2 separate regions of the Homo sapiens genome follow, and region 2 is linked to region 1. Evidence: fine-mapped expression QTL. Tissue or cell type: whole blood. Region 1 holds a variant in brackets; the other region holds the start of a gene. All regions are shown on one strand. Distances are between the middles of the regions.

Region 1 (8,106 bases):
TAGGGCAAGACGGTACATTCAACAAAGGCTCAGAGTTAAGCAGATTCTCTGCCAAGGACTTTGCAACTATAAGTCAGAGTTTCCACCACTGCTGCAAATCAGGCAATGTCGACTGTACCTGGCTTTGTTGGGTGAGGGAAGGGACAGTGTGTGACCTTGGAAAAGCTAATTCACTTTGTCAAGGGGCTGGAAAAGTATCTGGCTAGACATTTCTCTTGTTAGGGGTAGCATTAGTGAATGTCTGAAATGAGGGTCACCTCAAGGTTTCACCTGAAGCAGCTCTACTGCTTTCTGTGTTGAAGTTAATAGAGTAGGTAGAAATCACAGACATGACTTCACAGCCTGAGATTCACTGGACTGATACAGCCACTGTTCAATGCTGCTGCAGCCTAGACCAAGCCCTATAGGTATTCTTGATCTTGCTCTCATCTGTGCAGTGGAAAGATGCAGGTATGAGGTGTGGGAAAATCAAATCAAACAAAATGACAAACATGAAGGCTCTTGTAAGATTCACGGGCTTGTGTGAATGTTAGGAAGCAAGGTGGTTACAAGGTGGTCGTGCTCAGTGCTGCAGAGAAGGGGCTGCTGAGGGGCATCCTAAAGTCTTGTATCATAGCTCCTGGGATCCCAGAAGGAGGAGAGAGGCAGTTGCAGTGCATATGGACTCTGTCCTCTGGGATTTCCAGCTCCTAGGGCAGGGTGAAGAGGAAGTGAGAAGGCATGGCCTCCCTTTCCTGAGAACAGGAAGAAAGAAGGAACTAGTTCTGCTCCTCCTTTGAGGGTGTGCTGTGTGTGGAGTGAGCAGGGCAGAGCTTTGGCATTAACTGGCAGTGGACTTGAGCAAGGCATGACTTTTCTGGGTTTCTGATTCCTTTTCAGTAGGCACTGACTCTATTGGTCCTGCCCATTTTAATTTCTAGTGATTGTCTAAGAGTTTTAAAACCTTCTTGGGAAACATCTATAGCTTAATGCCAAAACAAAAGGCTGTATTTAAGTCAGCATTAAGTTCTGCAGTTCAGTGGTCATCAGATATCAGGGAAGGAGGGAATCGGTTCCTACTTGGCCCACTTCTTGATCCTTTACAACCCTATGAGAGGTATGACGCCCCTTTTCCAGTGAGGTGCCATGTGCCACTAGAGCCACGAATGACTGGGAAACCACTTTCTCAAATAGCTTTGGCTTCACACAAACAAATAAGCACAAGGAGGCTTATGTTATTACGAAGTTTAGTGGCAGAAGTGTGCAGGTGCCAGAGGATGCAAATCATCTTACACTTTTGCAGCCCAATGTCACTGGCAAAAGACCTTAGAAATGAGCCATAACCTTCATTTTGTAGGAAAGAAAACAGACCCAGGAAGGTGAAGAGATTTGCTTAACTTCGATGACAAAATTGAAATCAGAACCCAGGATTTTCACTCTTCACTCTTATTTGCAAAAATATTCTTCTTCTAAAACAAAAGAATACTCGCTTGTTTTTTGCCCTCCTTGACCCCTTTCCTTAGTCCCTCTCACCCCCAACTACTTTCATTTCTTTACCATGAAGCACCTGCCTGTCTCCATTTATGCAACATCCACGTCCACAAGCTGATGTTCAGATGAGAGGTTGGGTTATATAGGCAAGATAGATGGTTTAGACAGCAGACTTCTCATTAAACCTACCCTCTGCCCTGTTTCCAAATGTCTCTCATCCCAGTTTTTTTTCCCTTAATAAATATTTTACCTCAAAGGTAGCAAATCATTGGTCACCATTACAGACAGTTGTCTAAGTGAACGTTGGAAAGGTCATCTCACTTCCCAGGCCTCAGTTTTCTCATCAGTAAAATGAAAGCAGGAAAGGAACCCACAGTTAAAAGCTGGAGTAATGGTCTCTAGATCCCTCTTTAACTTCAATTTAATAAAAATTTTAGAGATGAAGTCTTGTCTGATGTTGAATTCCTGGATTCAAGTGATCTTTCCCCTCAGCCTCCCAGTAGCTGGGAATACAGGTGTGCCCTACCATGCCTGATGAAACTTTCTTTGCTCTAAAATCTGAACTCCACAAAGACATTGATCTGTCCTGTAGGAGTCAGGAAGCCTTTTCTATTTAACCATGCTAGGTCAGCAATAGGTGTTTTGCCTGCTGCTGAAAGAAGTTCTCTCAGTCAGGACTGCCTGTGTATTTTACAGGGATCAGTGCAAAATGAAATGTGGGGTCCCATGGCAGCCCCTTAAGCCAAGCACAGGCCCTGGGTGACCTCACCGGCCTTGTGCCCAGAGAGCTGCTCTGCTCAGAGCTACACCAGGGATTTGACAGACTCCAGCTAGTGCAGGAGGGAGTTAGTGCCAGGCTCATGAGAAGGGTATTCCTACTTTAGTGGCCAGCGTTCATGCTAAGATGACAATAGGCCCGGAACCCATATCACGCCCACCTCTCTGTCGCCAGTACCTGTTTTGGAAGAAGGGCTGACTGCATCAGTGCTGGTTCTTCCATTTCTTGAGGAAAGATTGCGCTCTTCAATAAGGAACTTCAGGTTTCCAGAACAGATTACTGACTGTTTTGGAGTCTGCAACTGACCTCAGTGCTCCCTGCCTTTGGGGACAGAGTGGCTAAGCCACTTTCTTTTCATCCAGCCTTCCCTCTCCACTTCCTCATAATGAACCTCTTTCATGCCTCAGATCACCGACTCCATTCCCTGCTCATTACCATTGGGTGGGATCTTGGGCCAAGATAAAGAAAAAGAACGCCCCTCAATTTTCCACCAGAGTCCCCTGATGTCTTAAGAAGCACATGTAGACAGAGAGGTTGCGTGGTCCTCACTTGAGTCAACTAAGAGTGGGAGATTCTCTTCTGAATTCATTTTTCAAAAGCAGTTTTTCCTTTTTTTTGTAGTATAAAAATGCTCTGGGCCTTGCACCATTTCAGGTTTTGGATCCAATTCCCAGTCCCTTTATAACCTTGGCAGCTGGGCTTCGCCTTCAACAGCCTTTCCCTTTCCCTGCTCATGGGCCTCTCACAACCCCACTCTCTCTTTCTATCACACAAATGAGTTCATTCTCAGCACCATACCCACTATGTGGCTTATCTCTTTTCCAGCTCTCATCATGATGATCGAGCTTCTTCAGGTTCATTGACACCCTGAAAATTTGTCTTTGAATTCTCTCTTGCTTTGTCATTGAAAGCATTGTGCTCCCTGACTCCCCATCCCCTCCTCTCTCCGTCCTAACATTTGAGTTTGTTGGTGTTTCATCTTTCTATCCGTGCATCCATCTATCTCTCCATCAGCCCATGTGTCTATTTTGTGTCAGTCACTGGGGACAGAGAGATGACATGGTGAGTTACTGTCCTCAGGACATGGCAGTGTAGGGGTGGGGGACAGGATATATAAATAAAAAATTAATGGCAGTGCAACTAGATATGCACAAAGCACAGAGGCTATAAAAGAGATGCTTTGGATGGTGAATAAGGAGCTGGGAAGGATGTGCTGGCAGGAGAGCTGGGCACCCTCTAAGCAGAAGGAATGCCGTGCACTGGCCTAGGTAGATGTAAAAGCATGCTGCAAGCAGGAAGCCCTGAGTTTTTGAAAATTGTTGAGGCACAAAGTAGGAGAATCTGGGAACAGGGCAGGGATTGGTGAGAATTAGTCTGGGGTGTTAGGCAGGGCCCAGGGCTTCAGAGGCCCTCTATGTTATGTTAAGGCTCTCAGGCTCCTCCTGACAGTCCTGGGGCTCCACCCAGTGGTTGGTTTTAAGGAAGGGCATGACGTGGTGAGACTAGTTTGGAGAGACAACTCTGGCAACACTGCTAAGGATAGGTTTCATGAGTGACTCTCCAAGACAGGGAGGCCTGTGGCAGGTACAAGTAGGAATGATGTTACCAGGGAGGAAGAGGACACATTCAAGAGGTGTTGTGGAGGTAAAGTTGGTAGCACTAAATGATAGGTGGGAAGAGTGGGGGGCTGCTGTCCAGGTTTCTGTCTTGAAAAAGTGGGTGCATGAGAGTTCTGTGCCCACACCCAGTCCTGTCTAAACTAGTGGCCATTCTGCCTCAGGCCTGCCTCATTTGCCCCTGTATTCCATTTTGTTACCAACACATAAATCAGGCCTTCATTTCTTACCTAGATCTTGAAGTATCCTCTTCATCTCTTTCAGTCCATCCTACGACATGCTGCCAAGGTAATCTTCCAGGGACAGCTGAACAATTCCCATTGCAGAGTGAATGACGTCCCAGCTTTTAGCATCACCATCAATATTCATTGCTGGAGGAGACATTCTTTTCCCATAGATTCCAATTTTTGAGAGAACATGAGGCATGTAGTATGTGTGAAGTAATTGAATGTCGTCGGGTTTTTTTGTTGTTTTTGTTTGTTTGTTTCTTTGTTTTACTTATTTATTTACTTATTTATCTTATTTTTTTGAGACAGAGTCCTGCTCTGTCTCCCAGGCTGGAGTACAATGGTGTGATCTCAGCTCACTGCAACCTCTGCCTCCTGAGTTCAAACAATTCTGCCTCAGCCTCCCAAGTAGCTGGGATTACAGGCACCAACATCATGCCCCCTAACTTTTTTGTATTTTTAGTGGAGACAGGCTTTTGCCATGTTGGCCAGGCTGGTCTCGAACTCCTGACCTCAGGTGATCCATCTACCTCAGCATTGCAAACTGCTAGGATTACAGGCGTGAGCCACCGTGCCCGGCCCAAGTCATCTTTAATGGG[GA/A]CACAGAACTCCTACTCTGAGGTCAATGAAGGAAGGAGGCAGGGTGTCTCCAGGGGTGGCCCCGGGTGATCCTGTGTGTGCCCATCATGTCTTTCCAGGTGTATCTTCCATTTCTCCCTGGCGTGGTGCTCTCTGGTCTGGTCTCATTGTTCCCTAAAAGTGACCCCTTTCCCACTTGGGTCTTTGCAGACTCCATTGTCTCCACCTGGAATACTTTCCCTCACATTCCTGTCTGTTGAAATCCTACCCATCTTCTGATATTTAGCCCAAATGCAAGGACCCCATGAATCCCCTATGGGAATGGATCTCCCGGAAGCATTTTCCTTTCTTATGGCACTCTTCACATTTACTGTGCACTGCACCTAACACGTCTCCTATTTTATCTCCCGCACTGGACCACTAGACTGGGAGCAGAAGTGGAAAATCAGAGGCCTTAATCCTGGGGCCAGGCTGTGAGTGTGTTTTCTTAGTTTGCATATTTGTTCCCCACCAAATTTAATTTATTAAAAAATTATAACCTATGTTAAACATACAGGAAAGCTGAGAGTATGATATAATAATGTATATTTGGGACTTATCGCCAAGAATGAATAGATTTGCTGCTGACACCTCACCACCCACTTTTTAAGATATAAATTATTGCACATACAGTTGGAACACTAGCCCACACATCCCTCTCCTGGAGCAGATCTTCACACTGCTTTTTCAAGTTTAGAGTTAGTCACTAATATTTGGAAATCATGGGATTTCACATCATAAGAGTTGGCCTCTTGTCACTTTCCTGCCAGTTCTCACCAGTCCATCACAGGCTCTGGGGCCCACCCTGGCCCTTGGAATCTGCCTATCTAGTCTGTGGCTTAGTCTGGCACCCGAGCTCTCTCATCTGCGCTCTGTACATGCTTTCCAGAAAGCAGAGGTCCTCCTCATGCCCCTCCATCCTCCTCTGCACCACTGCTCGGGCTGTGCCCATTGCTTGGACTGAGGAATTCAAGGCCTCATTCAAGCTCCACTGGCTCCTGTGGCTTTTCCCAGTGACTTCAGCTCAGCTTCATTCTCTGTACTCATATATACCTAGCCCTTAAGCCGGTGGCTGAGCACTTGCCTTTGCTTTCATTCATTCCTTTGTCAGGTACCCTGCAGAGCCACCCAGGTGGAGAAAAAGGACCCAAAAGTACCTTCCAGGTTAGGCTTCCTTGTTTTTCCCTCCAAGCCTTTCCGCCCCCGTATGGTGCATCCTGTGAGGTGCATCAGGGCTTGGTGCAGGAGCTCTGCCTGGCACCCTCAGTTGTAAGAAGGAATGGCACATTTTGTTGGCCGTAACACTCTGAGGCCTTTGTACCTCTTTAGTGAGATGGCTGACTGATCAGGCCTCCTCGCCTCTTTCGCTGATCACCCCTCACTGCCTGTTGGAGATATGTCCTCTTCCTTCCTTTGCCTGTGAAAACTGCCCTGGTGGTTTCGTAAGCGTAGGGTTTCACCAGGCTGAAAAACCAGGGGAAGGCGTCTTGTCTCTGATTCCACCACCTTCCTTTGGTTCCTATGGTATTTGGCATTAACATATGGATGTTGCGTTTGCCTTACAAGAGCTGGAGCGATGCTGGCTCTTGCATTTTGTGCAGTGGCTGGGGAAGGAGGGGTGTTGCATTTTTCTTTTTTCTTTTTTTTAATTTGTTAATTTTTTATTATACTTTAAGTGCTAGGGTACATGTGCACAACATGCAGGTTTGATACATAGGTATACATGTGCCACATTGGTTTGCTGCACCCATCAACTTGTCATTTACATTAGGTATTTCTCCTAATGCTATCTGTCCCCCAGACCCTCACCCCCAACAGGCCCCGGTGTGTGATATTCCCTGCCCTGTGTCCCTGTGTTCTCGTTCTTCAATTCCCACCTATGAGTGAGAACATGTAGTGTTTGGTTTTCTGTCCTTGTGATAGTTTGCTTAAAATGTTGGTTTCCACCTTCATCCATGTCCCTGCAAAAAAACATGAACTCATCCTTTTTTATGGCTGCATAGTGTTCCATGGTGTATATGTGCCACATTTTCTTAATCCAGTCTATCATTGACGGACATTTGGGTTGGTTCCAAGTCTTTGCTATTGTGAATAGTGCCTTAATAAACATACATGTGCATGTGTCTTTATAGTAGCATGATTTATAATCGTTTGGGTGTATACCCAGTAATGGGATTGCCAGGTCAAATGATATTTCTAGTTCTAGATCCTTGAGGAGTTGCCACACTGTCTTCCACAATGGTTGAACTAATTTACACTCCCACCAACAGTGTAAAAGCATTCCTATTTCTCCACATCCTCTCCAGCATCTGTTGTTTCCTGACTTTTTAATGATTGCCATTCTAACTGGCATGAGTGGTATCTCATTGTGGTTTGGATTTGCATTTCTCTGATGACCAGTGATGATGAGCATTTTTTCATATGTCTGTTGGCTGCATAAATGTCTTCTTTTGAGATGTATCTGTTCATATCCTTTGTCTACTTTTACATGAGGTGATTTGTTGTTTTCTTGTAAATTTGTTTAAGTTCTTTGTCGACTCTGGATATTAGTCCTTTGTCAGATGGGTAGATTGCAAAGATTTTCTCCCATTCTGTAGTTTGCCTGTTCACTCTGATGATAGTTTCTTTTGCTGTGCAGAAGCTCTTTAGTTTAATTAGATCTCATTTGTCAATTTTGGCTTTTGCTGCATTGCTTTTAGTGTTTTAGTCATGAAGTCTTTGCCCATGCCTATGTCCTGAATGGTATTGCCTAGGTTTTCTTCTAGGGTTTTTATGGTGTTAGGTCTTACATTTAAGTATTTAATCCATCTTCAGTTATTTTTCGTACATGGTGTAAGGAAAGGATCCAGTTTCAGCTTTCTACATATGGCTAGCCAGTTTTCCCAGCACCATTTGTTAAATAGGGAATCCTTTCCCCATTGCTTGTTTTTGTCCGGTTTGTCAAAGATCAGATGGTTGTAGATGTGTGGTGTTATTTCTGAGGTCTCTGTTCTGTTCCATTGGTCTGCATGTCTGTTTTGGTACAAGTACCATGCTGTTTTGGTTACTGTAGCCTTATAGTATAGTTTGAAGTCAGATAGCGTGATGCCTCCAGCTTTGTTCTTTTTGCTTAGGATTGTCTTGGCTATGTGGGCTCTTTTTTGGTTCCATATGAAATTTAAAGTATTTTTTTCCCAATTCTTTGAAGAAAGTCAGTGGTAGTTTGATGGGGATAGTATTGAATCTATAAATTACCTTGGGCAGTATAGCCATTTTCATGATATTGATTTTTCCTATCCATGAGCATGGAACATTCTTCCATTTGTTTGTGCCCTCTTTTATTTTGTTGAGCAGTGGTTTGTAGTTTTCCTTGAAGAGGCCCTTCACATCCCTTGTAAGTTGAATTCCTAGGTATTTT
Region 2 (8,106 bases), 66 kb before region 1:
TGGCAGGAACAGCACAGCAGGAGGAGTTTGATGTAGACTCAGGAGACAGTCTATTATCAGTTTTTTACTTATGCCTTTGCTGTCACTGTGTAAGAGGCAGAGGATTTTAGTTTTCTAACGTGGCATGGCTCAATATATCTGACTCCAGACCATTTGGGTTTGCTGGCTACTGGTAGAAGGGGAATCTTTTAATCACACTGTAATTTTTTCCTCTCTGCTACTACATAGGCCAGTTTCAACATTAGCATGGCTTTTTCTTTGGAACATTTATAAAAACTATAAGTAGACCAAACTCTCTAAAACCCTGACATTTGTCAATCAAGACCTCTCAAACTCCACCCTGGAAATGCTGGGGTCTGAGACCTCTCACTCAGTTTCCTGGCTACCATATCACAAGAATTTCCAGTTCTCTAGCCTGGCACAGAGGGATCTTTCCTACTTTCACCATTTCTCAACTCAGCCAATTTTACATTTAAGGATCTGCACTACAGCATCCCACTTCCAGCTATATAGAACTCTTTTGGCTGCAAGAGATAGAACTTAACCCAAAATAGCTTAAGCCCAGAAGGGAATGTTTTGGCTCATGTAACTAAAAAGTCTAAGGGTACCTTGGCTTCAGGCATGATCAAACAAGTCATAAAAATTTGCTTATGCATACATCCCTTCCCACACCCCTTTTCTCAGCTTTGTTTCCTTTAATAGCTTATCCCTCATACAACACTGAATTGGCTAATTGGCGGGTCTTGATCACTACCTGCCAATGAAGTGGAGGTGAAGATGGGCTCTGCCCTTCTCTAAACCACAAGACCTAAGGGTGGAAATGGGGTTTTTTCTCAAAGGTGCTGTTACCAAAAAAAGGGAAAGGGATGCTTGCTAGGTTAAGAAAAACAACAGAGGTCCATCCATTTTATACTTGAAAGCTTAAAAAAATGTAAGCAAATCTGTCCAGACTCAACTCTCTGAAAGATGAGGATGAGAATCATTATTTACTTTGCCTCAAAGTGGTGAAGAAGAAAAAGAAAAGGGCAAGGGTAAAATTTTTTTTAGTTTAAAGATGAAATGAAAATCCACAGGCTTGAAAGTTTGGACTTTCCTGAAGTTGTGGTGTGCCTTTCCAACCTATTGTCAACTTGGAAAAGACTTAATCTTCAACAGTGGAGGAAGCCTCCATTCTCTCCTTTCATTCACTTGTCTGTCACCTTCCCCTGAGGGCCTCAAGGGCAGGAGAGAGCATATGACAAGGAGGAAAGAAATGCCATTTCCTTCTGGTCTCAGACTCTGCGTATCTTAGCTGGGAATATGCAGTTTGGTCATTTCAATCTCAACATTTTCAACACTAAGTTGCAGGAATTAGTTAATTCAACAAGTATTTGTTGAATAAGAATCCCTTATCCTCTTTCGTTCCTCTTTGTTACCCTTTGTTTCTCTCCAAGACTTTTCTCATCAGCATTTAAACATCCTCAAGGCTCTCTCATCTTAAAAACCGAACAAATAAAACCCCTACAAACAGAAGAATGTCCTTTGATCCGACTTCCTTCTCAGCTACCACCCTGTTCAGAACCAAATTTCACATACTACATGTCTTCTTTACCGTCTGTATTTCCTCCCTCCCAAGCCTTCCTCTGGCCACTCCTGTCCACTCCTGCCACTCACTGGAACAGAAGGCTTATGGAAAGAGCCCCACTTTTACAGAACACGAACCCCAGTATAAGGCAGCATTATAGCCCTTAAACACTGTGAAGTAATTTTGTGACATCTGTCTTTTCAACTGGAGTGTGGGCTTCTTGGGGGTAAGACATAGCTGGTAGTTACTCAGTAAAATATCTTACTGTTGAATGTTACATGTCTACTCCAGACATGGAGACTAGCATGAATAAATGTTAAACAAAACTTTGTTGAAGTAACAAAATAACTGAGATTGGAAACAAAAGGATGGGACAGGTTTGGAATGGCGTGAAATAATGAGTGAAAGTTCAATTATTCTGAGCTCAAGTTAGAAGTGTAGGAGAAGGAGGAGAGTGTGTTGTATTAAAAGCAAGGCAAAAAATAGTTTCAATGGGCAATGTTATATGTTAAATGCTACAAGCAAGTATATCATGTTTTTCAGACTGAACACTATTAGAGGCTACTTGATTTGCAAAACAATAATCAATTCTTTGGGGTGGAGATGGGGAGATTAGTTTCACTGGAATGTTACCAGGTTGAGAATATGAAGGAGCAGTAATTTGTAGGGTCCAGAAAATGCAAGGATCACAGCACAATTAATTTAGGTGGACAGTCAACAGAGTGGGCATACAGCAGGACCTTTAGGGTGGGCATACAACAGGAACTTTTGGGAGGTGAACAGTCCTATCTGCATGCTTCTCATCAATTCTACATTTTAATCCAGGCCATCTTATCCGTGAGGTTAAGGATCTCTAGAGAAAGAGAACTCTAGCATAAACTTTACTTAAATGTAAGCTAAACCCTTCACCCAAATGTTTTAATCATATGGATTTAAAATGTGAAATGACAAGTGGAAGTGACACGTAATTATGACCTTATTTTTTGAAACAGAGTCTCAATCTGTCACCCAGGCTGGAGTGCAATCACGGTTCACTGCAGCCTCAAACTCCCAGTCTCAAACGACCCTTCCACTTAAACGACCGAGTAGCTGGGACTACAGGTACGCGCCACCACACCCGCTATTTATTTTATTTTACTTTTCGTAGAAACAGGGTCTCACTGTGTTGCCCAGGCTGGTCTTGAACTCCTGGGCTCAAGTGACCCTCCCACTTCGGCCTCCCAAAGTGCTGTGATTACAGGCATGAGCCACCAAGCCCAGAGACTTTTCTTTCTTTCTTTCTTTTTTTTTTTTGAGACGGAGTCTCACTTTGTTGCCCAGGCTGGAGTGCACTGACATGATCTCAGCTCACTGCAAGGTCTGCCTCCCAGGTTCATTCCAGTCTCCTGCCTCAGCCTCCCGAGTAGCTGGGACTACAGGTGCCCGCCACCACGCCCGGCTAATTTTTGGTGTTTTTTTTTTTAGTAGAGACGGGGTTTCACCGTATTAGCCAGGATGGTCTCCATCTCCTGACCTCGTAGTACGCCCGCCTCGGCCTCCCAAAGTGCTGGGATTACAGGCGTGAGCCACCGCGCCCGGCCTCCCAGAGACTTTTCTATCTGATTACTTTTCAAACACATTCTAGAGCATCCTAGAACTTGTCCTTTCCTAGTTCAGTTTATTACTTTCTGCTCATGCTCCAGGAGAGAATATAGCTTTTAGTCATTTAGTCTCTATGTGGTCCTTCCTTGATTTTCTAAGGGTCCTGAGTCTGTGGTCCCAGAAATAGACAAAAACATGTGCAGGGCATCATAGACTCTTGCTAGGCTGGAAGTAGAGTTCCTCTCTTGTAGCCAATGTCCTCTTCTCCTCACCCTTCCACTCCCGAAATACACACACTCAATATACAGTGGCCAGCACATCTGTTTTATGGGACCAAGAAGCTGAATCCTAAAGGTTAATGAAGGAAAGATACGCAGAAAGTCCAGCACTTTCCTAATTCAGCAGCACACAGGTTTTCACGTCTAATATTTAATTTACGTAATTTATTTTCAATCTCAATTTAATTGCTTTTCTTGAAAAGATGTTTGGGACAAGGTCAACAATGAGGGAGGAATGTCACCGGGTCGGGATCTGGAAACAATCAGCTCTGTATGGTTTTAAAGATGAAGCGCCAAGATCTTAAGGAACCTGAATTCCTGGTGAGCAATCAAGTTCTTTAATCGGCCCCCAGCAGGATGTCAACGGCGTAAAAGACAAAAAGAAAATCTATTTTAAAAGATAGATTTTGTGTTTTTAGATTAATTTTTAAAAAGCGAACCCACCACAAACTTCCCAGTTTTTAAAGAAAAGGCCTCTCCCACCGCAGAGCCCTCCCGAACCATGGGACAGCTCAGCGGCAGCGTCCCACCGGCTGCCCGCAACCGGTGCCGCGAGCTCGGAGTGCAGCGCTGGGATCTCGCGTGCTCCGGGACAGCGGGCTCCTTGAGCGCCGCGGGGCGGGGCGTGGGGCAAGACCCGCCGGCCGCTCCCTTCCCCACAGCGCTTAGAGAAGCAGCGAGCGCCTTTCCTCCTGTCCCGGAGTCCTAGCCTGGCCCGAGCTACCTCCAGGGCGCCCGCTGCTGCGGTGGCAGGAAGTCCCCGGGAACTACAAATCGAGGCATGCTGGGAACATTCTCCCGCTCCTCCCAGGAAATGTCCTTTGTCCAGCCCTACAGGAAGCCCCAGTGAGGAGTCAGCCGGGCAGCCAGCCAGCGAGCCAGCCAGCCAGCCAGCCAGCCAGCCAGCCAACCAGCCAGCCAGCGGGCCACCCAGCGGCCGCTGCAGCCGCCGCCGCCGCACAAGGGCAGACGCGCTGCGGTGCGGGGCTCGGGCCGGGGCGCTCGGTGCCCTAGCTCCTCGCCGCGCCAGCCGCCTCGCAGGTAGGAGCGTGGCTGTGGCTGGGCTCAACCGCCTCCCGGGGATGGGGCTGATCGGGACCAGACCCGACCGCTGCGGGGATGGGGTGTGTGTTCGAGTGCGGTGGCGGAACGGCTGGGCGAAGTTGTGCCTCGTAAAGTGGACCGTTGTCCGCTCCCCTGGGGCGCAGGGCCCCGGGCTTATGGGGTGCTCTCGCGCCCCCAAAGCCAGGACTGAGCTCCCTCAGGGGTATGTGGCGAGGGGCGGGGAGGAGGAGGCTGAGACTTGAGGGAGGAGACAGCGATGCAAGAGGGAATAGGACCGTCCCGCCGACCACCGAAGGGGGCATCAGAGACCCTCGGAGAAACCAAGCCCAGGGAGGAGCTTGGAAGGCAAGGAGAAGGTGAAGGGCTTTGTGTGCAGCTGTGGACCTTGACGGACTGCGCTCCCCTTGCCTTGTCTGTTCGTGCCTCCAGCCCCACTGGGGCTAAGGGAGGGTGGGGGGCTCCGAGAAGGGCAGGAGAGAGGCGGCAGGTCATCTTGGGTCCTAGTGAATGAAATGTGTGCCTCCCTTTTCCTCTCTTCTCCATTCTAGCCCACTCAAATGAGCGGCTTTGGGGCTGCCATCAGACCGGGCAAATGACACAATAAGGACGGGTGGGTGGAGAGATGGGCAGCAGCTCGCAGCCCAAGAGGGGTGGCCGTCTAGCCCCGGGAGGCATTCCAACCACACGTGTCCATGTAGGTAGGTGGTGGGGTGGTGGGCAAAGCTGGAACCTGCACCTCGCGGGGATGCCGAGGCTCAGGATTGTGCATGGAGGCACGGGTGAGGCGCGTGTTGGGAGGAGTGGGTGAGTAAAAGGTTGAGGGGGAGCAGCGACACAGAGGCGCTGAGTGTACCTTATGGCCAATGTACATTATGGCCATGCATCGGGAACTGACTACCACTTCCTCTGGGACTTTCCACGATTTTCCTTTTTCCTAACCGCCTCCCCCAACCGCCCCCGCCCTGCCTCCCCCACAGGAGTGAATCACCCACCCCTTACTACATGAACCCTGGGCTGAATTGAAGTTGGTGATGTATCCCTGTCCTTGTAGTGGGCATGTTTGTCCTTAACCTGTAGGATGACACCAATACTCCGCATCCCCTACTGCGTTACCCTCCTCCCTCAAGACTGAGCGTCTGGTAAATGCGGTTGGATAATGGCTAGCGAGTTAAATGTCTTTGAGTAGCTGTGGTGGATGAGTGGGCAACTTTGAATACAGTCCAAGTGTGACTGTTGTAACTGAACTCAGCATGCCTAAGGGGCCACACTCACTATCTCTCCTTTCTCCCCTCACCTGATTTTTTGTTGATGCCCCCAACTGTTTACCTTCTTCTCTCAACAAGCCAACATGTGGATATTATTTAATGTGGAATACGTTTGAGGAACCAAATGAACCTTTAAGAATGCCACTTATATGGCCAGGCAGGAGTATGCAAGGCTCATGGTCGAAAGAATGATGCTGTAGGACATGGAGAGAGCCCTGAGCCTGATATAAATGGCTTTCGAGGTGAAACAAAACATTTCTTCCTTAGCTTCTTTGGGAGAGATGAGGCATTTGAACTGAGATAAAGAATGGAATCGAGAAAAAAAACCGAGTTGTTTAGGATGAGGCCATGAGGATAATGAAGTGAAGGGAAGAGGCTCTGTGAATTTAGATGATTTCTAGTTAGAACATATTGGCCGTGTGTGTGTGTGTGTGTGTGTGTGTGTGTGTGTGTGTGTGTTGGAAGTGGGGGTTGTTGTTAAGGGAAAGTTGATGTCAAAAGTTCAGCCATGCCCAACAGAGAATAAGATGGCATCCTATTGAACAAGATCATAAATATGAAGTCAGGCTGCCCTTTACATTACACAAAGGAACACATAGATGGCTTTTCAGAACTACTGGGATAGAGGGGTAAATGGATGCTAGTCAGACAGAAGAACCGGCTGGATTGATGCGGCTGGATTGAAGTGGTAAATAGTGACCTCACATCAGCAGCATGACTAAGGCTCATGGAGTTGCATCACATTTCCTCTCCCTCCCCCACCAAAACTCTTTGAATTTCCTCAGAATCTACATTTTTTGCCTAATTACTAGTGTCCTGTGAAGGGAAGGAGAAAGGGTAAAGGTTGGTTGTAAGGATGATAAACTAAGGCAAGAAGGAGCTTGTCTGCTTATGTAGAAAGAAAAAAATAGCTACAGTGTCAGTAAGAGGTCTGGAGCTTGAACCTATGTCAGTACCATATGGGCTTTTCTTTGTATCTAAGATTCTACTTCTTTTTTCTTTTCTTTCACCTGCCCCTTAACAGGTTTCTCAGTACCACACACTATGTAGAGTTAATATAATCAACAAAAGTAACTCCTTACTTTGGGATTTAAAATTCTTCACAATTCAGTGCCTACCTACCCCTCTCCTTTACTGGACCTGTGCCACCCCAATTTACCTACCCATCCTTCGAGCAAATAGCTCCCCAGTCCTTGAAGATGCAACAGACATTCTTCTACCTCCGTGACTGTCCGGTTGAACCCCATGCTTGCTGGACATCCCTGTACCTGTCCCTAATTATTTTTGTACATATCCTGGCCCAGCTGATTAGCTCCCTTACAGAACTCTTCCCAAACTTTACAGTCAAAATTAATCTTACCCCTTGGTAATTTGTATTATTTCAATGACACCTGCTTTAGGTGTTAATATCTAACAAGTGCCCAAAGGATGTTTGATTTGAAAACATGAATAAATCAAAGAAGGAGTGAAAGGATAAAAAAAATCTTAATTATCTTGCCTTTTCTTTAGAAAATGGGATGGAGCCTTTCTCATAGACCTGTGATGATTCATTGCAATTGTGAAAATAAAGCACCTAGGACATGTCAGACTGAGGCTTTTCCTTTTGCTCCTGGGTTAAGAGACCCTAAAAGTACCTATCACAGTGTCTAGTACAAGGACATTCACAAAAAGTTTGTTGAATAAGTTATTTGCCAGCCTACATTTTAAACTCTCAGGCAGAATATGGAGTGGATTAATCCCAAGCAAATAATCAACAATTTTTGTCATTGTCCTAGACTGAAGAAGGTAACTGTTTCCATTCAATTATGAAGGTGCAAAGTGCTCATTGGAAAAGCAGCACTACGAAGACTGTCCTGCTATAGCCAGACATTTACCATGCCATTTTTATTTTTATAGCCCAAGCAATCTATGAGGATTAAAATGTAGCATATAGAAATAGAAAACAAATCAGACTTTCAAATTTTCCCCAAAGACACTACAATTTAGTAGTCCCTCACTTATCTCGAACTGGGCAATTTTTCATGCTTCTTTTTATGTGATTACAATAATAGTCGCCACTTATTGAACATCTGTATATCAGCTACTAAACTAGGTGATTTACATGTCTAATCTGATGACTTATTTAATCTGATGACTTACATATTGTTATCTCCATTCTAAAAATGAGGAAACTAGGGCTTGGAGAGAAGCTAAGAAGCTTGCCTGGAGTCCCAGATTCTGAACTGAGTGTAGACTGGAATTTACGTCTGCTGACTGTCAAGCCTGTTCAGAATTTGCTTTCCATGGGAGAAAACTGACAGTTCTTTATTCCTTCTTCTCCTGAAGTCCTCCACTTCCCAGATTTCCTACCAGT

The links. PIP is the estimated chance that this variant, and not a neighbour inherited with it, causes the effect.
Region 2: it holds the start of ZNF697, and the variant in region 1 is fine-mapped to the expression of ZNF697 in whole blood (TOPMed, PIP 0.99).

The regions. Positions count from the first base shown.
Region 1 is chr1:119,578,607-119,586,712 of GRCh38, reverse strand. No RefSeq gene overlaps it. Among named protein-coding and RNA genes, the nearest start is that of LINC00622, 17 kb to the left of the region's middle. The variant GA/A (reference allele first, on the strand shown) is at 4,691.
Region 2 is chr1:119,644,429-119,652,534 of GRCh38, reverse strand. It overlaps ZNF697 (zinc finger protein 697), which reads left to right and starts at 4,269. Exons shown (of 3, transcript NM_001080470.2): 1 at 4,269-4,844. LOC124904389 (a long non-coding RNA gene) reads right to left here and starts at 4,219. Exons shown (of 2, transcript XR_007066506.1): 1 at 4,148-4,219; 2 at 3,559-3,811. RefSeq lists enhancers at 4,192-4,261, 3,433-4,273 and silencers at 4,332-4,391, 4,689-4,852.